7 linked regions of the Homo sapiens genome follow. The protein of the gene in region 2 purifies or fractionates together with the protein of the main gene of each other region. This does not show direct contact. Each region holds a gene or a part of one and is shown on either strand. Other genes may lie near its edges.

Region 1 (3,500 bases), on a different chromosome or scaffold from region 2:
GGCCCTTTCAATTATAGCCACCCTTGATCTGAAGCTTTTCTGTGGCTTTTCAGAGCACTGGCCTTTAATTTATGTCAGCACTACTTATTTTTGGCATTTTACAGCTGTGTGGGACATCTATCTCATTTCTTTCAACTTTGAAATATGAAGTCAGTGCTTGTGATTCCAATATACTAGGCAAAAAAAAAAATTTTTTTGTACACTTTCTGAAAGAGAACATTTTGGAGAGTGACTGAAAAAGAATTCCCTTATTCACAAAAAGTCTACTCCTTTTACACCGGGATTATCTTGCTGTTATTTCCACCAAGAATGAGTACTGTGTTAAGCTCAGGAAACAATTTTTGAGTACCTAGTATAGGTTAGGTGGTATATTTGGGGCTGGGAACACAAAAGATAAAAAAGACTGTCTAGCTCCAAGGGACATAAAATATCTACCTTAAATTCAATCTTATCACCAAAAATAAATTCTATCTTTCAGGAAACTTATGAGCCAATAAATAACATAATCCCGTGAAAAATACCTTATCTCCTCCAAAATTCTTTTCAAAGCCTATTCTTAATCATCTTTTTGATGATTTATATATTGGCCCATTTCTAAGAATTAAGGGATTGTCTGTTTGGAGGAAGCTATGAGAAGGTGACTTTCAAAAATTATTTTTATCTTTGGGTTTATCTTTTTCTTCCTTTTTTCCCCTAATTTGAAAAATAATTACAATTAAGAACATGTATTTAGTATTGAAAAAAAAAACTACAAAAAAAGCAGAAGCCAATAGCAATTGCCCCTCTTAGAATCAACCACAACATGTTTTCAACTCCCACTTAATGCCCATCACCTCCTAAACCACTAGCCCAATTCATTCCCCATCTCAACCCCTACATAATCCCTGCACTCTTATCACTGAAGGAAAAAGCAGAGGCAAAGGTAAATATAGAATCATAAAATCTCAAGATTAGAAAGGGCTTTAAAAGACATGATTGCTGAATATTGATTTACTCACTGCAATTAACTGAACCCCCAGAGAGAGCACGCTCCCTTCAACTTCTAAAAAAACACAGCAAAAACCACAGGTATAACAAAAACAAAAGCAACTATAATAACAAGCCTCCCCATTTTAAAGACAAAGTTTACTACTGTATTTGGTTAAATGAATGATGGGAATTTTTCTTCTTTGTTAAAAATGTTTTGGCTTATAAATGTAGTACTTCACAGAGTTGTAGTTCTGCAAGAGAACTTTTAAAAAGTGGGCAAAGACCTTTCAGTACATTAAGTACAAATGTTTGTTAGTTCTTGATTGTAACTACTCTGGCATAATCAAATAACCCACATTTTTAAATGGAAAAACTGTAGTATGTTTATTTAATGCCAATAAGCAAAAGTGACAGCCTTACATTTGCTTATCAAGATAAATTTCTTCAAGTAAAATTTTTTATAATAAAGGTATCTCCTCAGATAAAAAAATCAAATGACTTAAAATCAAATAATGCTACTACATAGTAAGTCAGTTGCTACCAAAGGATATCTTTGGGAACTTAGAGGCCTACACACAGAAAGACTACTCAAAAATAAAGAATGCTTCCCAAAATATTACCAGCTTCTTGTTCCAGGGTTTTAGCTTGGAATTTCAAATATAGTATCATCTTAAGATACTGTATTTGCCTCTCTCTCTCTATATATTTTTTTTTTTTAGAAATTATGTTTTTAAAAGAAGTAACATATGGTTTGGAGTTGAAGTCAATGAGAGCCCTAAACATAATTTTTGTGTTATTTCAGAGAGAAGTAACAAAGGCCAGTAGCAGATCACATATGAGAGGCACAAGCAAGCAGAAGTCACTGATGGAGTTAGGCTGTTTTCTAAAAGGCCACTGCCCCCAATTTCCTTAAGTTTCCTTTCAATACTCTATAAATCTATAATACTTTCAGTGATCAGGCCCTTCTCCCATGCTAATAAGGGACCTGTGCTGGTTGGCAGACTGACAGAAATGTATACTAAAAGCCATGCAACTGATCAATTAATCAATTCATGTAATTTATTTGCTTTCTTTCTCCCACGTTAGAATAGAAGCTCAAGGAGAGCAGGTAGTTTGTCTTATATTCACTGCCAGATTCCTAGAACAATTCCTGGTATACGGCACTTGCCTGTTGTGTATTTCTTGAATAAAAGTCATTCTCTTACTTTAAGATACACTAGTGCCTTACATTGAGACAGGGTTGACACCACAGGATAAGCTAAAGGTCCTTGGCCTTCTTTTTACATGTTAAGTATTATGACAGTCACTGTATTACTAAAGTAAACATGTTTTGTTTACTACATTTGACTGTTTACTTTATTTCACTGACACCCAGGAAAGCAACAGAGACTGACATATGTACAGTACAGCCTTTTTTGCTACAGGCTTGACATTCTATACTGCTCCACCCCAAAAAACTTCACCTTAGTAAGACTGCAAATAGATGAGACTTTTGACATGTGTCAGGAAATTTTCAGCTTATCCAAGATAACTATATTAAATTTGGCAAAGGGCAATTTACCTTATTATAGAGAAATAACAATTAGGGATAAGTATCTGATGCTATACTTCCATAGAAGAAGGACATGAGCTTATTTATCTTTGGGTTTTAATACTTTTGTATTCACACTAATTCTAGATATTTGGAGTATACAACACTAAATGAAGCTATGCCAAGGCAAGCCGGAGGGATTTCTAATATCATTTACCATACTTCCTCCTTTTCTTGAGTAAATTTCAAAATGGAGTATTTTTATAAACATTCCATTAGAGACCAAAAGGCTTTGATTTTCAAAGTAGCAGTGATGGCCAAAGGCTTCATTGTGCCAGAAAAAACACTGCAGAGCAGTTTGGGAGCTACAATTGATATCGGAACTGTATTCTGCCAGAATCTAACAGAAGCTTAAAGGATTTTTCAGCTTGCAATATTAACTGATACATACATTCTGGATGAGAGAGAAAAGGATGCCAGTTCCCCTTGTCCAAATAGCTCTAAGAGATACAAGATCATTTCTGTCCCTAGTAAAAGAGAAATGGAAGTCCTATTGGTATGACCTTTGAGGTGGTATAACTAAACTAAAGAGCATCTCTAACAACAAAAAGTTCCTAAGACCATATTTTCTCATAGTCTATCACACAGAAAAACAGGACGTGTTTGAAGAAAACAAATGTGGTAAAAGAATACCACACCTGAGTACCAAAAAACTAATAAGCTCTAGTGCTACGCTACTATCCTTGAGCAATTCACTTTGCCTTTCTGGTTCTCAATGGCAATTCCAACAAAATGGGTAAATGCAGCAAGCCCAGTGGGTGGCCAAGACTGCCAAAATTCAGAAATGCCTTCTTGAGGAGGAACAAGGGGGACATTGGGGAAGTCAGTCCACTTGCCTCATCAAACTTTGACTTTATATGTTTCCCTCACTTGGTAGCTGAGGTAATGAAACAAAGCGAAAGCTATCTTTGGACCTGGACCAGCTTTTGTGGTGTGGCCT
Region 2 (3,500 bases):
GCTAGACCTTAGACAAAGGACCAAGCATATCCAAGCTTTAGGTTCCTCATCTGCAAACAGGAAGAATAAAGTCCATCCCAGATGATTTTTTCAATGGAGGGAAAAAGCAGACTTTGCTTCAGCTATTCATCAAGGCAGTGGCAAGGCCAAAAACATTAGGTGTCTCCTAATTTTGTTCTTTATGGCTACCAGTTTAAGCTGCCTCTCCCCCATCAAAAAAAAAAAAAAAAATTTCATGTTATCATGTACATTTTTCTCCAGTTAGCCTCTTTAGGTTTTCCACAGAATTTCAAAATATAAGCATTGTAAGGGCTTAGATGCCAACAGATTCTAACCCCATCTTCTAGAGATGAGCAAACTGATATTCAAAGTGGGTGTCTTGCCAAGGTCACATTGTAAATTAAACCAACAACTGAATCAAGGATTACACACTTCTAGCCTGAGGCAAATTCCACAGGATTACCTAGATTCAATTTATCAGCCAATCTTTGTTCAGTACCTTCTTTTCCTACAGCTGAGGGACATGGATCTTCCTACTGCCCTTAACCATGAACATTTAAAGAGGCATAATTTTGAAAAAGCATTTTAAGCTGGTCCATGGGGATGCAGGGAAGATTAATATGTGATGAATAAATTAAAGTTTGCAAAGCACCTATGAGCTTCTCAAAGAAAAGGTGAAGTATAAAAGTAATAAAAGCACTGTTATTACATAGAAAGGTCAGACTACAAGAGAAAACATAATCTGAGAACATCTCAGCACCAAAGTCATCAGCAAAGGTCCCATAACTTATCTTTTAATTAACATTAACATGGCATTTGAAGACCTTGCCTTTCAATCAGCTAATTTGGAAAAAAAATCAGAATATGGCTTTGCAACTGCTTTGTTTTAATTAATTTTATTTTTTATTAATTTAAAATGAGGGGCTTCTAGTTCTCTACAAATTATTATTACATAAAGGGTTAAGTCACTCTCTGAGGAATTCTTTTAAAAGTGGCATGTTGCTGTTGATAAGGAACAGGAACTTAATACCCAGACTGCAAAAATAAGATGACTTTATTAGTATCCTAGCACCTTCATATCAAAGCTTTAAATGTCATACTGTAGTTCCACAAGACTTACCTCTTATTATTGCTTTGAGGTGGCAGGGTTTTAGCTTTCTGGCAGCTGTCACATCATTGAGAGCAGAACGAAAATTGCCTAACAAAACACCGTTTAGTAAAAGAGAGAAGTTTTGAGATCAAAATGTTTCCAAAATTTTATATGTAGTGACAAAGACACTCTTGTACAATCCTGGGGAAATACAAATGAGAGCAACTGTTTTTTTGAAAAAATATGGTTGTACTTGTCAAGAGCCTTAGAAATGTCTATAACAGGCAATCTACAGAACTGTAAATGGCTAGTAAGCACATGAAAAGACGTTCAACATCACTAATGATTAGGAAATTAAAATTAAGAAATTGCTAAAAGTTAGACAAATAATATCTAGTATTAGAAAAGATATGGAAAAGGGGTACTCTCAGGGTAAATTAGAAAGCAAATTAGCATGTATTTTGTACATATACTTTGACACAACAATTTTCTTCTGGAAAATTATCAAAAATACTTGAACAAATGTGCAGGGATAAATGTAAAAGCATGTTAACTACAGCATTACTTTAATTGTGAAAAGCTGGAGATAACTCAAATATCCTCAATTTGGTAATGATTACATGAATTATGGTAAATCCATACTATTGAATACTATGCAGCCATTAAAAAGAATGAGATAGATCCTCATGTAAGAAACACGGTAGGATGTCTGTTCTATATTGTTTTAAGTGGTGGTTCTATGAGTATAGAGGAAGCCTATTTAAAAAAAAAAAAAAACTAAATATCTAGACACACATGTATATATTTGTAAGTGCATTAAAAAAAAAAAAAAAGTATGCAGTCACACACATACCAGTTATCCAAACTAGCAAGCCATGAGGTATACTTTAACTTTCTGGAGTATACTATAATTATTACTTAATGGTTTAGTATTTACCTAAATCTCTAGCCCAGGGGTCAGCAAAATATTTTGTAAAGGGCCAGATAAATATTTTAGGTGTTGCAGGCCACATGTGGTCTACTGCACATTCTTCTTCATTTTATTACAATTCTTGAAAAATGTAAGAAACCTCTGGGGAGGTGGCTCACTCCTGCAATCCCAGCACTATGGGAGACCGAGGTGAGAGGATTGCTTAAGACCAGGAGTTCAAGACCAGCCTGGGCAATATAGCAAGACTCTCTCTCTACAAAAAATTTTTTAAAAATTAGCTGGGCATGGTGGTACATGCCTATAGTTCTACCTACTCGGGAGGCAGAAGTGGGAGAATTGCTTGAGCCCAGGAGTCTAAGATTGCACTATGCTATGATCACAGCTAGTACACTCCAGCCTGAACAGAGTAAGACCCTGTCACTTTAAAAAAAAAAAAAAAAAAAGTATGGAACATTTTTAGTTCATGGCAAGCCAAGGGGCCAGGGGTGGACTCTGAGTCCTAGTTTGCCAAATCGTGCTTTAGCCTAATGAATAATCAGAATTATCAGAAAAATATTATGACTTTATTTATTTTTGCATTATTTATAAAAACCAAAAAACAGTCTATATACTCAACAATAGCAGACTAATAAAGCAAACAGTATAAATAGTGGCATGTCCATATGATGCAACTTTAGCTATTGAAATAACATTCAGAAATGATTTTTAATGACGGTGAAATTGTTTGTTATAAAATTAAGTGAAAAAACTGAATATCAAACTGGAAGAACAGCAGGATCTCAACCATGGAAAAAAATGCACATGAAAGGGATCCAAGGACTTTTAGTTAAAGGAGGCAGATTGAACACATACATTTAACTCAATCCCCACTCTCTCTCCCATAAAGACAAAGAAAATGAGAAGAACACAGAACACATTGTGAAAGCTGGAAAACAAAGGAACAAGTAACTGATGTATCAGGCTTAAGGAAACTGAATTCTAAACCAGTAGAGGGAAAGCACAAAAGCTACCAAGCTGCACTGCAGAAACTACAAAGTACTCAGGACTCAGGAACTGATGGCACCAGGTACCTCTGGAAGTGGGGGTGAAGGTGGGTTGAAAATCTACTTAAGAAGCAGTCAGAGTCCCATATTCCTTACCCCTCTGCTGCACCAGTGACCTACTCCTCCCCTGTTCCTCCAGGTGGAGGACTGGAGGTTTACCCTAGCAGACAATAAAACAGTAGGTCTCTGGACTGGAACCCCCAGGCACAAAGGTGATTCAGTAAAGGAAATATTAAAGATTGAGCCCTTGGTCCTCTTCTCCTACTTGGTTCCCAAAGTACCAGCAGCCAGGATTTCCAAAAAGAGAAAAAAGAGTAAAAAAGAAAAAGAAAAATATCAAAGCATTCAGGAAAATGTCCTAGAAACATGAGTTTCCAGACTGAAAAGGTCCACTGAGTACACAGCACATTGGGAGACCAAGGCAGGTGGATCACTT
Region 3 (3,500 bases), on a different chromosome or scaffold from region 2:
CTAGCCTCAAGGCCTCAAGTGATCCGCCCGCCTCAGCCTCCCAAAGTTCTGGGATTACAGGCGTGAGCCACCGCAGCTGGCGAGGTTGCTATGGATTTTATTGCCGTTGTACACTTTATATAGAATGAAGGACAAGTTTTCTGAATTGTGAAGTTTCTAGTCCTGCTGGATGTCACAAACCCACCCAGCTCTCTGTTGCTAGGATTTCAGGGTAGGCAGAATGGCCCAAAAGATATGCCAGTCCCCAGGATCTGTGAATACCCAGCATTACATGGCAACAAAGACTTTTCAGGTGTACTCAGGGGTTCAGATTTCAAATAGGGAGATCACCGTGGACCTTCCAGGTTAGATTAGTTCAATCTAATCCAATGAGCGTTAGCAGAAAACTTTCTGTGGCTGGGGACAGGAGAGATGAGGCAAGAGGGGGAGAGGATGTCAGAGATTCAGAATGCCACCTGGAACCTAATGCCATGTCTGACATTTGTGTTGCACCCAGACTTTCAAAACAAGATCTCAGCTGTCCTTCTGTGTTACCCTCCCAGGAATGCCAGAAAGTAGGCAGAGAAAGAATCGCCAATCCAGTTCTTCTAATGAGGAGCCCCAGGCAGAGAAAAGTTGGTGGTTTGCCTACAGTGGCTTTTCTCGTTAGTGGGAAGACAAAGGGTAGGACTCCAAACACACGGTTTTCAGCCCAGGAACCTTCCAGAGACCACCACAGGAAGGAGGTGTAAAATGTCAGCCTGTCTACTCACCTTTCTATAGATGGCAAAGATGGTTCCGATGGAGGCCAGGCAGTCAATATTGGAAGATCCATCCAGTGGGTCAAAGCAGACCACGTATTTCCCCTAAATCAGAGAGGAAAGCACCAACTGATCAGCACATCTTCCCATTAGCACAATTGCTCTGTGTCAGGGCTGTGCGTGGCAGAGTACACCACATCAAAAAGAGATTGAGAACCACAGCATATCTTTATCAAAAAACACCATGACTTACGGAGGGCAGGGTGCCAGTTTATACACAAATACTCCTCTGGGTTTTGTATCCATCTCACCTGTCTGATGCGAAGACCAGAAGATAAAGTGGGTGTGTCTTGAGAGACCAACGTCCCCCACACCCACCCACTCTGCTGTCACAGGCAGCTCAAGCCACCAAGGGAAGCCCCAGGTCCTTTTTATAGCCCCCTGTGTGCAAGGTCACGAGAGACCCTTAGTGATGGCGACCGGAACCCCCAGGCCAATTAAACACGGGTAATGCAACTTCAAGAGAAATGAGGGTCATTTCTCCCTCCACTTGATTTAGTTTTCCCTGACTTTCCAATGAGTATTGGCCTAGCTTCATTTGAGCTTTGTTTCTGTTTTTTTTCCTTGCTCAGCCAGAGTAGAAAAGTTAGATAATTTGTAAACTTGGAAATTCCCCAACATCTCTATAATAATCCAATTTTTTAAAAAAAAATCCAATTTAGCCCATTCATTCATGCATGCATGCATTCAGCAGATACATGTTGAGCTTCCAGCATATGCTGGGAAGTAAGTGTTCAAGGCCCTGGGGTTTGTTTCCGGGGGGTCAGCGATCCCGGCAGCAAGGCTGGATTTCATGGCACTGACATTCCAGTGGGAGAACAGACAGAGAGCACACAGGTCAGGACACATACAAGCAGGCTGTGGCACGTGCCCTAACGAAAACCCACATAGGCTGGGGGCTGGAGAGCCATGAGGGGGGGTCACATTTGATGACAGACCTGACTAGAATTAAGGAATGAAGAAACACACAGAGACCTAGAAAGCAAAATTGTTTGTTTTCTTGTTTTTGTTTTGTTTTGACAGAGTCTCACTCTGTTGCCCAGGATGGAGTGCAGTGGTGTGGTCAGAGCTCGCTGCAGCCTAGAGATCCTGGGCTCAAGCAATCCTCCCACCTCAGACTCCCAAGTAGCTGGGACTACAGGTGCACACCACCATGCCGAGCTAAATTTTTATCTTTTGTATCTTTATGTTGCCTAGGCTGGTCTCAAACTCCTGAGCTCAAGCAATTCTCCCACCTCAGACTCCCGAGTAGCTGGGACTACAGGTGCACACCACCATGCCGAGCTAAATTTTTATCTTTTGTATCTTTATGTTGCCTAGGCTGGTCTCAAACTCCTGAGCTCAAGCAATCCTCCCACCTCAGCCTCCCAAAGCACCGGGATTGCAGGCGTGAGCCACCGCGCCCATCCTAGAAAGAAGAATTTTCGACAGAGAGATCAGCAGGTTTGGAGTATTCAAGAGCTGCCACGGGCCAGGCATGGTGGCTCACGCCTGTAATCCCAGCACTTTGGGAGCCTGAGGCGGGTGGATCACCTGAGGTCAGAGTTCAAGACCAGCCTGGCCAACATGGCGAAACCCCGTCTCTACTAAAAACACAAAAATTAGCGGGGCATGGTGGCGCATGCCTGTAATCCCAGCTACTCAGGAGGCTGAGGCGGGAGAATTGCTTGAACCCGGGAGGCAGAGGTTACAGTGAGCTGAGATTGCGCCATTGCACTCCAGCCTGTCCAGCCGGGCAGTAGAGCAAGACTCCGTCTCAAAAAAATAAATAAATAAGTAAATAAATAAATAAAGGAACTGACATGAAGACCTATGTGGCTATGTGGCTTAGGCCAATAGGAGAAGACAATGGTAGATCAGACTGGAGAGAGAAACAAGAGTCATATCAACTGAAACTGAAAGTTGGAAGTAATAGTGTGATGTAGCTAAAATTATGTGAGACGAGGGCAAAAGTGCCTTTTGCAGTACCTGGCATAGAGCAGAGGTTAAATAAATTTGGCTTTACTTTAAATTCTTTTCCATTCCTCCAGCTAATCACAAAGAAATGGCCTCTTGTCTATTGACTATATTGCAGCTGAACATTGATTGAAACTTTTGGCCATTGGCAAACCTCTCTGTATAATAAGCTGTGTGTGAACCCATAGTGAATGCAGACCCTCCCCAGCCGTGCCTTCCTTCACCGACTTCACCATCCTACGAGGTAAGAGCACAGGAGGCTTGTGGTTTTGTTTCTGGACCAGTCTAACAGCTTGTCAGGCACTAAGAAATCTCTGCTGAAACTGTAACCCCTCGCAAAGTGCCGGCTGGGGGCGGGGGTGGAATGAGAAGGCGGGGCGGTGAGAGGCTGTACAGTACAGCTCTTCCCTGGACTCCACAAGGTTAAGCCCCCAAAAATTTGGCTCTTGTTACTGATTAAGTGAACAGCCACGAACAAGCGCCCACTGAGGCGGTTCCTGCATCACTCTGAACAATTTCCTGAATGAATCACTGTCCTACTGTGGAGTCTTCTTTCTCTAGACAGCACAAGATTTCCAAGTAGAGAAGTATGTAATCCTTTGTTTCCAGAAAACAAATGTTAAGAAATAGAGGAGAATCCCGGGAATTAAAGAAAAGTAAGGCAGCTTATTTCCGGCTCAGTATCATCATCTACTGGCGAGCGGGCACCGCAGCCCCATGACGCACCCGCTTCTCCTTGGCGGT
Region 4 (3,500 bases), on a different chromosome or scaffold from region 2:
TTTTTTTTCTTTTTTGAGACGAACTCTGACTCTGTCACCCAGGCTGGAGTGCAGTGGCGTGATCTCAGCTCACTGCAACCTCTGCCTCCCAGGTTCAAGCAATTCTCCTGCCTCAGCCTCCTGAGCAGCTGGGATTATAGGTGTCTACTACCACACCTGGCTAATTTTTGTATTTTCAGTAGAGATAGGGTTTCATCATGTTGGCCATGCTGGTCTAGAACTCCTGACCTCAAGTGATCTGCCAGCTGCAGCCTCTCAAAGTGCTGGGATTACAGGCGTGAACCACCATGCCCAGCCTGAACACATGTAATTAACACATATAGTAACACATGCTATTTATTTATTTATTTGAGACAGAGTCTAGCTCTGTCACCCAAGCTGGAGTGCAGTGGCACGATCCTGCTCACTGCAACCTCCACCTCCTGGGTTCAAGCGATTCTCCTGCCTCAGCCTCCGGAGTATCTGGGATTACAGGCACCTGCCACCCTGCCCTGCTAATTTTTGTATTCTTAGTAGAGACAGGGTTTCACCATGTTGGCCAGGCTGGTCTCCAACTCCTTACCTCAAGTGATCTGCCCGCCTCAGCCTCCCAAAGTGCTGGGATTACAGGCATGAGCCACCCCACCAGGACAACATATGCTATTTCTATCAGGTTTATTTTTGAAATGTATCTGAAATTTTGGAAGACCATTTAATTTTCCAGAAAGTTTTATCAAGTAAAAAAATGCATTATTACTTAATAAACTATCACTTCATTTCAATTTCCCTTTAGGATTATTAGGTCTTTTCTCTCCTCACAAACTGGAAAGCAAGCTCCCACCTGTAATCCGCTGGGGTGCTCAGAAGTCTGACAGATTCATCATATTACTCCCAACTGTATTCCAACACTCAACTGGGTATTAATTAAATAACCTAGAAATGGCATTCTAAATATGGCACACCTCTTAAATTGGGTTCAAAGTGGCATTTAATGTATTTTCATCATCTTGAGTTGTCTCTAAACAGCTACACTTCAATTGGCCTTTCTTGAAGAGCTTCCTGTGTTATATATTTTACCTTAATATTTAAAACAGCTCGGCTATGAGAGAAATGCTGGTATGTTCTATAGAGCTCAATGAATAAAGCATACATTCTCCCTAGAATGAAAGGATCTTTGCAAATATAAACAGTATTTTTTCAAACAAGGCACTCAATATTTTTATCCTTCCAATTATCTCAGCAGCAGAGAAAAACCAGTGTCACAAGTTCCACTGACTGCAGTCCAAAGCTCACTGAGCGTTTCACAGCAAAAGAGCTTTGTCTTTTAACTCTTACAGTTTTACTTTTTACTCAACAAAACTTTTGAAGGAATTTTCTTTATGAGTAGATGTAACTGCCTTAGCTGATAGAGCAGATGCTGGGATTCCCCAAGATAAAAAGATCCTATGAATCCCCATCAACCCAAATTCTTTTTTTTTTTTTTTTTTGAGACAGAGTCTCACTCTGTCGCCAGGCTGGAGTGCAGTGGTACAATCTCGGCTCACTGCAACCTACGACCCCCTGGTCCAAGCAATTCTCCTGCGTCAGCCTCCTGAGTAGCTGGGACTACAGGCGCATGCCACCACGCCCAGCTAATTTTTGTATTTTTAGCAGAGACGGGGTTTCACCATGTTGGCCAGGGTGGTCTCGATCTCCTGACCTTGTGATCTGCCCACCTCGGCCTCCCAAAGTGCTAGGATTACAGGTGTGAGCCACCGCGCTCAGCCCAACCCCAAATCTTTTCACCTTCTTCCAGACCAACACACAAGACCCGGCACAGAATCACTATAAACTGTGGGCCAAGGAGAGACACAATGAAGCTTGCTGAGCTACCTGCAGGGGACCAATGCACCCATCCTTGAAATCCCTCCAGGAGGGCTAAATTATGGTTTTAAAACAATACACTTGTCTAGAAGAGACATTTATGGGGCCAGGCGCAGTGGCTCCCCGCTGTAATCTCAGCACTTTGGGAGGCCAAGGTGGGTGGATCACTTGAGGTCAGGAGTTCGAGACCAGCCTGGCCAACATAGTGAAACCCCATCTCTACTAAAAATACAAAAATTAGTTGGGCACGGTGGTGCATGCCTGTAATTCCAGCTACTCGGGAGGCTGAGGCAGAAGAACTGTTTGAACCCAGAAGGTGGAGGCTGCAGTGAGCCAAGATTATGCCACTGCACTCCAGCCTGGGTGACACAGCGAGACTCTTGTCTCAAAAAAAAAGACATTTATGGGTATCGATCAGCATCCTGTCTTTGTCGTGGGGAGCTGTTCTATGCACTGAAGGATGCTGAGCAGCATCCCCGGCTTCTACCCAGTCAGCAGTGCATGTACACGCACCCAGTGGTGACAACCAGCAATATCTCAACACTCCCAAATGTCTTCTGGATGGGGCAAAATGAGCCTGGGTTAAGAACCACTAGTAGAGATGCATGCGTGTAGTTTTAGCACCTTTAAATATACCAGTACTTCAAATTAAATATTTAAGGTCATATAAAATATAAATTGTGACTTATGAAATCACAGAGAAAAACAATTTAGTCAGACTTCAACTTACGGATGTTAAAAATCAACATTTATATCAATGTACCCTGCCTGATGAAAACAACTCCTAAATGGTAATACTTCATAAATGTGTATTTCTCACAATAAGAAAAGGAATAAAATGGTTCCACCAGATAATACTGTATATTTTCCAGGAGGCTTCTTTCTCCCAATATCCAAGATTCATATCTTACAAACATCTGTATCTTAAATTTCAGATTTAAGTCTTAAAAAAAGTACTATAGGTGAGGTATGAAATATTTAATGTTTATATCAAAAAGGGCAAATACCATAAACCCACACTGAACTACCCATTTGCACTTTGCCTCATAGTTGAAATAACCTATACATTACCGGAAAGGATCTGACACAAAATTAAGCTGCAGCCACGAGTCCAGGTGGAGCACCTGTCAGGTGGAGGGGAGCACCAATGCCCCTCTGCAACCAGTGTCGCCCAGCACTCCCAGGAGGGCACAGCAGGGCCGCCTCGGGGTCACAACTGCAGCACCAGAGCTCCCAGGGATGCTGTGTTCCAAGTGCTTGTCCTCTCCGCATCTGCTCCCCAGAGCGGAAAAGCTTCCCTTCTGCGTCACACTCTGCTGAAAGTCCTCCCAGTACTTTTGGTACTGGGATAGCACCTTTCTGATCTTTTTGGTTGAGAAAGAGGAGATATGCTAGTCCAGGCAAGGATACGCTTAAAACCTACAGGCTTTAAAGCTAATACTGATTTTTGTTGTTATTCAAATAATGACAAGAACACATACAATTTTTCCTGCACTTCAAGGTAAGCTTTGTTAAAATGATAAGATATCAGGGGGCTCAAACATCGAATACAATATACGAATAAGGGCCACTTTCTAAGGCGGATTTTTCTACAGCAGGTTAAGCATTAAAGTCCCATTTACCACAAGCCAAAAATATCAATTCTGAGTGTGTAAAAC
Region 5 (3,500 bases), on a different chromosome or scaffold from region 2:
ATCACGAGGTCAGGAAATCAAGACCATCCTGGCTAACATGGTAAATCCTGTCTCTAATAAAAATGTAAAAAATTAGCTGGGCGTGGTGGCGGGGACCTGTAGTCCCAGCTACTCAGGAGGCTGAGGCGGGAGAATGGCATGAACCCGGGAGGCGGAGCTTGCAGTGAGCCAAGATCGTGCCACTGCACTCCAGCCTGGACGACAGAGCAAGACTCCGTCTCAAAAAATATATAAATTAATTAATTAAATAAAGCTGTTTAAAAAAAGAAATATAAGGGAAGTCATTATACACTAAAAAGAAAAAATACAGCACAAATAAACTACTATAAGATATTCTGACATTTAACGTATTAGAACTTCCCATAGAAATGAACAAATTTTACCTTCAACATTACAAAACATCCCTATTTCTCACTGGTATTTTTACAGTAGAGTTTCATCGATTATAAATCCACTCAAATATTTTAAGCAAAAATAAGGGTAAAACCTTACTTTCTGCCCAATATCTATCCATTAAAGAGAATCCCAATTTCTTTTAAACATATATACTTGTATCTGGAAGAATAATTTAGTCTTAAGCGATTTTCCAATAGTAAAATTACTATAAGGATAAACATGATTTAGCACTCACGAGCCAATGATAGCTAACAACAGTGACCAAATATAACAACAGTGACAAAATATATTACCTACATAAAACCTGGTAGCAAACCATCACAGCTCTCCTCTTGTTATAACCTGCATTTACATCTGATTTCTTTTTAAAACAAAGAGTAAAACATATGCTAATGAGTAAGAAAATATTTTGCTGCATACATAAAATTTGGACAGCCCTACAGTTCACTGCAATATTTTGTGATATATCTGAATGTGATTTAAAAAAAAAAAAAAACACTTGCTAAGAATAGCTTTCTAAATCCTATAGCAAGTCTGTGAAATAAATGGGTAATAAATATTATTGGTGTTAAAAAGCTCAAGGCAACTTGTTCAAGGTCACCCAAGTAACCAGTGGACATATATACATGGTGGAAAAAAAATAACAAGGGTTCCCAACCATAACTTTCCTCTCCTCCACAGTGGCAGCTACTCGTGATGCGAATGTCCTGCAGGCACAGAGGGCCTACACGAGGCAAATCACCTGGTGTGCCCCTCTCAGGGCTTGCTCTCAACATTTTTAAAATCAGGTCTAAATAAGCACCAGGGTAAGGGTCTGGCTTGCAGGGGCATCTCTCTCTTCTCATGCCTTCCTGACTAGAAAATCAGGAGTGGGGAAATGTAGGAACAAAAGGAACAATTTTCTTTTGTGAAGCAAATATATGGAAAGAAAGCCTAAGCTTCACTTTTCCAATTCTGACCAGATAAACTACTCACTCCTCCTCTTCGAGAGCACCCAACAGGGGCTCAAAAATGCTGCTTTCATCCTCCTTGCTCTCCCAACCCAAGAGCACCCAGGCTACGGAAACCTCAGGGTCCAGACCACTCAAAGGATCACAGTTTGGGAACCCCCGAGGTGGACTGCAGAGGAGTACGTTCTGAAGGACTTGAATCAGCTCCAAAGTGCCCCCACACACTCAGTGATCTATAAGATACAAAACTAGAAAGAACTAGAACTACACTCTAAGGGTGTGAGGAAATGATTTTTAAGGAATACTAAAGTCCTAAAAAACAAGTCAAGAGAAAAATGCAGAATTATGTAAGAAGTAGAGATTACAAACATCAATAACAGACATAAGTACTTCAGAGTTAGAGGACATCAAGCTAATATTTCGTAAAGAGCAACCACATGACAAAAATACTCAAAGCTGTAAGCCTTCCTTGGCCTTGGAAGGTCATGAGACTTTTTTTTTTTTTTTTTTTTTTGGCTAAAACAAGGAATGCTTTAGTGAGAGAGAAGAAAAGAACTTCCAGACTTCTAGGTGGCTCCCACTTTTTTTAAAAAAAACTCCTCCTCTCTCTTAAGTGTATGGTCCAGTGATGTCTGGTTACCATGCAAGTCACATCAACAGCTGGACAGCACTGAGCATCCTTAGAACTCTAGGTCTTGTTTTTCTACTAAAGTTTTCCCAATCTTCCTTTGATGTCTGGCACCACCAGCCGACAGCAGCTGACTAACGTGTTATCATGTGACGCTCTGTAAAATAGTAAGGCACAGTAAGATTTTTTTTCCTTTCAGTAAGCTTATGCTGATAAAAAAATAATTATTTTAATGATGTATTTAGAAAAAGGATTATGTACAACAGAAAGTCACAAGGGTAACACTAATTAAAAGGTGTCTCAATTTATTACTACGAATATTTCACAGAACCTACATGCATTTTTACCTGATATTTGCAAAGGCCGTTTCATATTATACATATAACCAGCAAAGAAGGAATATAGAAAAGTGTGGGTCTGGCTTTTCTATCATGAAAAGCAAATTTAACAGTGATAAAGAAGGCAATCAAGATACAAATACAGAAGCCAGGCATGGTGGCACACACCTGTAGTCCCAGCTACTCAGGAGGCTGAGGCAGGAGGATCACTTGAGGCCAGGAGTTTAAGACCAACTGGGCAACATAGTAAGACTCCATTTCAAAAAAAAAAGATAAAGATACAAACTGATATTACGATCTTACTCATTATATCAACATATTTATTGAGCACCTACTACATATACTGGGCACTGGTGATTAAACCAGGTATTATCAACTTCATATTAACCTAAAGGGCAAGAAAAGGACCCTAAGTGATTAAATAATATATAAATTGTGGTAAATATTCAGAAGCAAAAGTGATTACGCTATGAGGGAGAAAATAAAGGACATTTAATTCGCATGACGATAAGGGTGGGCTTGTCAGAGAAGACCTTTATGAGAAAGGACATTTGAGCTAGCACCCAAGGATGATAAGTTACTCAAGGAGATGATCCTAAAATAGGGAGACCAACAGCATGAGCCACAGGCCTGAGGCTAGTCTGCTGGAGAACTGGCCAAGATGACAGCAAGAGATGCAAGTGGATGTAGAGATCAAATCATGCAGGATCCTGAAGTAATGTCAAGGATTTGGTATCTTATCCCAAAAATAAATAAATGTGTTTCCTGAGAGCCCTGACAACTTTAAGACGGCAAATACTTTTTCTTTTTTTTTTCAGGCTGCTGGTAGTAAAACAGACTGCAAGGGGTGCAGAGTGTGTGCAGGAGGCACCGCACCAAGGAAAAAGATAATACAGTACAGTGGCTTGCATTAGGATGGCAGAATAGTGGGGACTGAAAATCAGACCGGTTTGAAAGAGATTTTGCAATAAAAATGGACAGCAGGACTTTATGATGGACTGGTTTGCTAGGGCTGATAGAAGAAAAGAGAGAGTGGAGTGAGCTACTCCTTGGATGGATGAGATGAAAAATGGAGGGGGAACAGTTTGAAAGTTTGAGTGACCAAGAGCTCAATTCTGAAGGAGTTTGAGATGTTGTCATTTATTGGCTGAAATGTGCCAGGCACATCTAATATATATTAGATGTTCT
Region 6 (3,500 bases), on a different chromosome or scaffold from region 2:
TGCTCTAACCAAAGGGGCAACTTCCTGTAACAGCCTCCCTTAAAGGGTCATTCCCTTTAAACTAAGCACTCTTTCCCCACTGGCTAATCCGTTTTGAGTTTTGTTAAGTTGCAGGGAGTGTTGAGGCTGCTCTGTGCCCTTTGATCTGGCCTGGCTCCATACTACTGGAAGGCAAAGGGTCTCAGAAGCCCCCATGGTAGGGTCTAGAAGAGTGATGCCTCCTGTAACAGAGGAAAGGGTCTTTTAAAATATCCTCATGAAACAAAATGTAGACTGGGAAAGAAAGTGACCTTGCAGTGACACCATGAATTCATCCTGTAGACCGTCCAGGTCCACCCCAAATTGTGAAGATTGAGGATGTCTGGGGAGAAAATGTCGCTCTCACATGGACTCCACCAAAGGATGATGGAAATGCTGCTATCACAGGCTATACCATTCAGAAGGCTGACAAGAAGAGCATGGTAAGGTCTGGCTTTCTCTGGTTCATCAGTAGCAAAAGGCACATTTCATCAGAGGTAAAGGAGATGGCACAAGGGCCTCACTGGTAAGGAGCCAACTGGGGCTATGGAGAAGTGATGTGGCAGAGCAGAAAGGAAAAGACCTGTGGAGCCACAGAGCTGGTCTTAAACCCCAGCATTGCTACTTAAGACCACATGTATAAGGACCACACGTGACCACAATCACTTGAGCTCTTTGATCTCTATTTTCCTCATCTATGTAATGGGGGCACAAATATCCCTTGCTTGATTATTACAAAGCTAAAATGATATAAAGCAACTGGTTCAATGTTCAGTAGAATTCAATAAACTCATTCATTCAACAAATATTTGCTCAAGACTTTGACTCAGATTTACACCCATGCAACTCTTTCTCCTTGTGAAATAAATGTTGGATACTGTGCACTTATGTCTACAAAAAAGTAAAAAGACAGACACCAGTTAGAACAGAAAGATTCTACAAGGTTACAGCATGTGCAAATGCGGAAAGGTCTGGAGAAAAAGAGCTTAATGCAAACTTGTCCAACCCGTGGCCCACAGGCCTCATGCAACCCAGGATGGCTTTGAATGCAGCCCAACACATATTTGTAAACTTTCTTAAAACGTTATGAGTTTTTTTATGATTTTTTTTCAGCTCATCAGCTATCGTTAGCGTTAGTCTATTTTATGTGTGGCCCAAGACAATTCTTTTTCCAGGGAAGCCAAAAGATTGAAAACCCCTGGCTTAATGTGTTTAAAAAGCAACCTAGTTGGAGTATGACTTATTATAAACTTATTTTATAGATGAGGAAACTGAGGCTTGCAGAGGATAAATGACTTGCTAAAGATCACCAGATTTTCTCACGCCTGAAATCCCAGCTACTTGGGAGGCTGAGGCAGGAGAATTGCTTGAACTCGGAAGGTGGAGGTTGTAGTGAGCTGAGATTGTGCCACTGTACTGTAGCCAGGATGACAGAACAAGACTCCATCTCAAAAAGAAAAAACAGAACCAAAGTTAATAATATCAGCTGGGAGCAGTGGCTCATACCTGTAGTCCCAGCACTTTGGAAGGCTGAGGCAGGAGGATTGCTTGAGCCCAGGAGTTTGAGACCAGCCTGGACAACATAGGGAGACCTCCTCTCTCTAAAAAATAAATTAGCTGGGTGTGGTAGCACGTGCCTGTAGTCCCAGTTACTCGGGAGGCTGAGGTGAAAGGGTCTATTGAGCCCGGGAGGTCAAGACTATAGTAAGCCAAGATTGCATCACTGCACTCCAGCCTGGGTGACAGAGTGAGATCCTGTCTCAAAAAGAAAAAAAAAATAATAATGTTAAATAAATGTACTGGATATTACTAATGTTTCTCTAGTGATTTAGCTTCAGGTCTTTCTCATAATAAGTTGGCACTAAAATTCTGTAGTTATACTTTATTCTACAAAAGATAGCTAGGAAGACAAATAGGTAGGTAGACAGGTAGATAAATAGATGACAGACACCTAAAGGTTATGAAAAAATATAAAGATAGTAGATGGCAACTAGGGTATATGAATCTAATGTGTAAATGAAGATTAAATTACATAGTCAATTGCAAATAAGTTGTGAAATATTAAACAAAATATACATTGTTTCAACACATTTTAACAACATATATTATTACTCTCCATATAAAAATGAGTGGTCTTTTTTTCTTTTTGTTAATAAAGCATCCTTGTTATTTATCCCAATCTACAGTTAGAAAAATTGTATACTTTTAGGTGATTTTCCTCCAGTTATTATTTTTTTTTCTTTTAGGAATGGTTTACTGTCATTGAGCATTATCATCGAACCAGTGCCACCATTACTGAATTGGTCATAGGGAATGAATATTACTTCCGGGTCTTTTCTGAAAACATGTGTGGCCTCAGTGAGGATGCCACCATGACTAAAGAGAGTGCAGTGATCGCCAGGGATGGTGAGTTGGGAATGGACTGACATTTGAAAACCTTGGTTGACAGTGACCAGACAGAGAAGACTGGAAAAAGAGATGTGGTGAAAGGGAACAAAAAAATGGTAAATGTACATTGTAAAATTATGATAATGGTGTTCAAGTAAAATTTTAATTTTACAGGTAAAATTTAAGTGAAATTGTATTATTATTGCATTTTTTACAAATATAGGCTTTAATTAATTCCAGGTTCTAGGCAGTGGATCTATAAATGGCTAATACCCCAGAGGCTGGAAGAAGTAGACATTTTCTTCTAGAGTTTCTACTTTTATTCTTGGACACCTTTATTGTAGCTACACATGGGACCCACTCTGTGATAAAAGGAGAAACTAAATTCTATCCTTATCTTTTCTTTTCATCATAAACCACTCTTCTTAAAACCTTCCTTGTGTATTTTCACATTAGAACAAATTTCTATTCAAAATACTCAGAAAGACACCAAAGTCTTCTCAATATCTGGTTCAGTTTCAGATGACCCCTCTGGCTTTCTATCCCACGTGTGATTGGCTATACGTTTATACCCCTCAGAATGTTTGCCACATGGCATTTGCTCATCTTTGTCCATGTTTTTCTAAGTTCAGGGAAGTTTTAATCATGTGTAAAGTATGCCACCAATAATATATTCTCAGGCCAATTTACATAATTTTAACATATTTGTAATGCTTGTTTTTAAGGTAAAATCTACAAAAATCCAGTGTATGAAGACTTTGATTTCTCAGAGGCACCCATGTTTACTCAGCCTTTGGTTAACACCTATGCCATAGCTGGTTACAATGCCACCCTAAACTGCAGTGTGAGAGGAAATCCTAAGGTACCATGTTCTTCTATCACATCAGTTAAAGTCCCTGTCTTGTATTTGTTGTGTTATAATGTAAGTAACAATGTAAACAAATCCAGCTGCTACTTGTGTCTTCCCAGGATGGGGGATTAGAAGGTGGTAGTGGTGGTAGATTATTAGGCACACTATTCAGATGTAGTAGTAAAAAATGCTTACATTTCTTTGCTAAGGGATTCCTTCTAAAGAAAAAGCAAACCACCTATTT
Region 7 (3,500 bases), on a different chromosome or scaffold from region 2:
TAGAGACAAGTTTGGTTCCGGCCAGCTCCATCCTGTATAAAAGTGCAGGAAGTCAAAATGCTTGCAGGAAGGGAAAGTTCAGTTGATGGCAATAACATCTTTGTGCCCTTATTAGTCATCAGCGCCCAGATAAGGCAGATAGGGCAGACCTATCTCCATGAATTAATCTTTAGAAGTAGGATGTGGGAAATGATATAAAGGGAGCCTTCCGCCCTATAGAACAGAAGTAAGACAACAGTTGGATTCTGAAAGCCAGACAAGGCCCCAGGACTCCGAGACTGATTCAAACCTCACACACTCAGTGGTGGAGGCCAGACACACACTGTTCAACTACCAACTACTGTTGTCTGCATAGACCCACAAGCACCTCAGGATAAGGACTTGAACCAGGTGGCAAGCAGGTGTACACAGAACACTGTCAGGCAAAAGGCTACTCAGAAACTATTTTATGTCCTGCTTTTCATCTTTTGTTCAAAATCTAAGATCCTTACAAGTACAGAGAACAATTAACTTCCTTCTAGAATGAGGACAAAAGTATGAAGACAGTCATTTAAATACGAATAAAAGGAACACTAATATTCTTCAGATTCCAGACAGCAAAAAGCACCATTGAAGAGGTCATTTTAGTTGTAATATGGGTCAGTTCACGATGATTCTGAGATACCTTTGAAACCTAAGACCATATTGAATGCAGTTTTAAGTATATTTTGTTGTGCAATAATTCCTTAAAGATTGCTAATCTAAATACATAAGTAGGTTAACAGGAGCCTCATTTTCAATAATGTATAAATGACTTTTCCCCATTGTTTTATATAAATACAAAACCTACGGAATCCATAAACTCAAAAGGATGAGGATTCTAACTTATCCAAAAAAAGCTCTGATAATTTCATGAGTAGATCCAGAAGAGGCTGCCAAGAGACGCTAGAGAAGCAGAAGATCTTCGCCAGCCTTCCGAAGCAAGGTCGTCAGCCATACTCTCCTCAAAGCATCACTGGGTACCATCCTCAGGAAAAGAATACTGGGCTTCATGAGACATTGGTTTGATAAAACACCTGAGTTACTGTGAGGACATTTGAAGGTGAAATGAGGATTCAAAGAGTAAGTGGAGAAAAGGACCAGAGTTGACTGTATGGGACTTAATTGTCAAACTGTCTGATAAATATGTAAAATTATGAAAGAATATCTGATTTACAGTAAGACTGTGTAATAACATTTATTAAACACAACACGTGCCAGGCATTAATCTAGGCAGTGGTGGACAGAGGATAGATGGTCCTCGCCCTCATGATCTCTGCACTCTTGGGGACTTAAAACAACTAACAGGTAAACAATCAGTCATTTCAGGTGGTGGTAAGTGCTATGAAGAGAATAAACCAGGATGATGTGATTACAGCTGGTGGGAAGAAAGGGGAACTACTTTAGATGGGTGGTCAGAAAAGGCCTCTCAGGAGGTAACTTCAGTACGGAGAGCCATGCGATGAGGAGTCAGTCATGCAAAAATTCAGAAGATGTTTCAGGCTGGGTATATAGCAAGTACAAGGGCTGCCAGAGGAAGGAGAGAGGCACCTGGGAGGAAACAGAGAAGCCAGTGTGGTGATGGAAGCAGCTTAGGGAGGAAAAGGGAGAGTGAGGTAAGATGAGGTCAGAGAGGCAGGCAGGAGTCAGTGATGCAGGGCCACATAGGAATTTAGACTTTAGGCCCGGTGCAGTGGCTCACACCTGTTATCCCAGCACTTTAGAAGGCAGAGGCAGGAGGACTGCTTGAGGCCAGGAGTTTGAGACCAGTCTGGGCAACACAGCAAGACCCTGGCTCTACAAAAAATATAAAAATTAGCTGGGCATGGTAGTGCATGCCCGTAGTCCCAGCTACTTAAGAGGCTGAGGTGGGAGGATTGTTTGTGCCCAGAAGTTCGAGGCTGCAGTGAGCTATGACTGCACCACTGCAATCTAGCCTAGGCAAGAAGAGTGAGAACTTGTCTCCAAAAAAAAAAAAAAGAAGTTTTTATTAACTGCCATCTTTATACTGCTAACTATAGTACAAAAGACAACCATAATCCGTGCTTAATTGAAAAAGTCCCAAACAAGAAACCACACTACTCAAAATGTGTCATGTGTCTCTATGCTAATTAGAATGTAAAATGAATCCTTAAGATCGAAGCAAAGACAGTGGCTGGTCAAGTTAAGGCCATGCAACAGTCTTTAAGCAGCAGCCAACTTCATGCCTTCATGTGGGCAAACATGTTACTCTACTCACCCCAAGCAGAACCCTTTTCATTAAAACCCTAAAGAATCATTTACTTTCCTGGTTCCATGCACAGTTGCTCTGAAACGACAATTCTGATAATTCTGTGGCTAACAATGGAAATTGTTTTGCTTTCAGTGAAGCAATGACATATTTATTCTCACACCTGTAATCCCACCCCTTTGGGAGGCTGAAGTGGGCGGATCACTTGAGGTCAAGAGTTCAAGATCAGCCTGGCCAACATGGTGAAATCCCGTCTCTACTAGAAATACAAAAATTAGCCGGGCGTGGTGGTGGGTGCCTGTAAACCCAGCTACTTGGGAGGCTGAGACAGGGGAATCTCTTGAACTCAGGAGAAGGAGGTTGCAGTGGGCCGAGATCGCGCCACTGCACTCCAGCCTGGGTGACAGAGCAAGACTCCAACTCAAAAAAAAAAAAAAAATTATTCTTCCCCTACCTTTCATCATAGTTTCTTCTTTCACTTGCCTGTGGTTTTGGCCAAATGTCACTTTTCTTAGAGTAAATGATTTTTTTTTTTTTTTTTTGAGATGGAGTCTTGCTCTGTCACCCAGGCTAGAGTGCGGTGGCACAATCTCAGCTCACTGCAACCTCCACCTCCTGGGTTCAAGTGATTCTCCCACCTCAGCCTCCCGAGTAGCTGGGACTACAGGCACGCACCACCATGCCCGGCCAATTTTTGTATTTTAGGGTTTCGCCATGCTGGCCAGGCTGGTCCTGAACTCCTGACCTCGTGATCTGTCCACCTCGGCCTCCCAAAGTGCTAGGATTACAGGCGTGAGCCACCGCGCCCGGCCATGAATTATTTTTAAAAGAGCAGCTTATGCTTCTGTGAAGAACAGTGTGTCCACCACACTATAATGATGTTTAAATAAAATCAAGAAAGTGATAAGAACAGTGTCCTGGCAAAATAAAAAATAAAAACAGAGTCCCACAGATACCTGGAACAAATACAATGAAATGTTAAAGACGATGCTACTATATAAAAGAGCATTTCAAAGATGCCTGAAAAATTCCACTATAAATCTAAATCATGTTGTAAATGCTATATACAATCCTTTGACCTGAGTGAGATTGGTGGGGGTTAACCACTATTTATTTTGCCAACTATGGCAGCAATCTGTAATCTTTTTTAGGTTAGAGCTCTTTCCACAAAAATGAAGATATTATACACAAAGTTTTACATGTAAATTAAGGAGTTCCATGATGTCACTGGCATCCCCGAATGTCACCTGCA

The links.
Region 1: the proteins of TTC4 (region 2) and OBI1 purify together in Homo sapiens (affinity purification with mass spectrometry, with the first as the bait; one large-scale study listed by BioGRID). This does not show direct contact.
Region 3: the proteins of TTC4 (region 2) and FBP2 purify together in Homo sapiens (co-immunoprecipitation; one large-scale study listed by IntAct). This does not show direct contact.
Region 4: the proteins of TTC4 (region 2) and NAXD purify together in Homo sapiens (co-immunoprecipitation; one large-scale study listed by IntAct). This does not show direct contact.
Region 5: the proteins of TTC4 (region 2) and RASSF8 purify together in Homo sapiens (co-immunoprecipitation; one large-scale study listed by IntAct). This does not show direct contact.
Region 6: the proteins of TTC4 (region 2) and MYBPC1 purify together in Homo sapiens (co-immunoprecipitation; one large-scale study listed by IntAct). This does not show direct contact.
Region 7: the proteins of TTC4 (region 2) and GNS fractionate together in Homo sapiens (co-fractionation; one large-scale study listed by BioGRID). This does not show direct contact.

Annotation. Positions count from the first base shown.
Region 1 is NC_000013.11:78,617,656-78,621,155, forward strand, and holds part of OBI1 (ORC ubiquitin ligase 1), read right to left. Parts: intron 1-3,500. UniProt on the Homo sapiens protein: E3 ubiquitin ligase essential for DNA replication origin activation during S phase.
Region 2 is NC_000001.11:54,718,861-54,722,360, reverse strand, and holds part of TTC4 (tetratricopeptide repeat protein 4), read right to left. Parts: intron 1,199-3,500; coding exon 1,121-1,198; intron 1-1,120.
Region 3 is NC_000009.12:94,583,825-94,587,324, forward strand, and holds part of FBP2 (fructose-1,6-bisphosphatase isozyme 2), read right to left. Parts: coding exon 3,483-3,500; intron 846-3,482; coding exon 753-845; intron 1-752.
Region 4 is NC_000013.11:110,618,545-110,622,044, reverse strand, and holds part of NAXD (ATP-dependent (S)-NAD(P)H-hydrate dehydratase), read right to left. Parts: intron 1-3,500. UniProt on the Homo sapiens protein: Catalyzes the dehydration of the S-form of NAD(P)HX at the expense of ATP, which is converted to ADP.
Region 5 is NC_000012.12:25,961,682-25,965,181, reverse strand, and holds part of RASSF8 (ras association domain-containing protein 8), read right to left. Parts: intron 1-3,500.
Region 6 is NC_000012.12:101,674,971-101,678,470, forward strand, and holds part of MYBPC1 (myosin-binding protein C, slow-type), read left to right. Parts: intron 1-321; coding exon 322-461; intron 462-2,264; coding exon 2,265-2,424; intron 2,425-3,131; coding exon 3,132-3,268; intron 3,269-3,500. UniProt on the Homo sapiens protein: Thick filament-associated protein located in the crossbridge region of vertebrate striated muscle a bands. Slow skeletal protein that binds to both myosin and actin.
Region 7 is NC_000012.12:64,752,907-64,756,406, forward strand, and holds part of GNS (N-acetylglucosamine-6-sulfatase precursor), read right to left. Parts: intron 1-3,500. UniProt on the Homo sapiens protein: Hydrolyzes 6-sulfate groups in N-acetyl-d-glucosaminide units of heparin sulfate and keratan sulfate.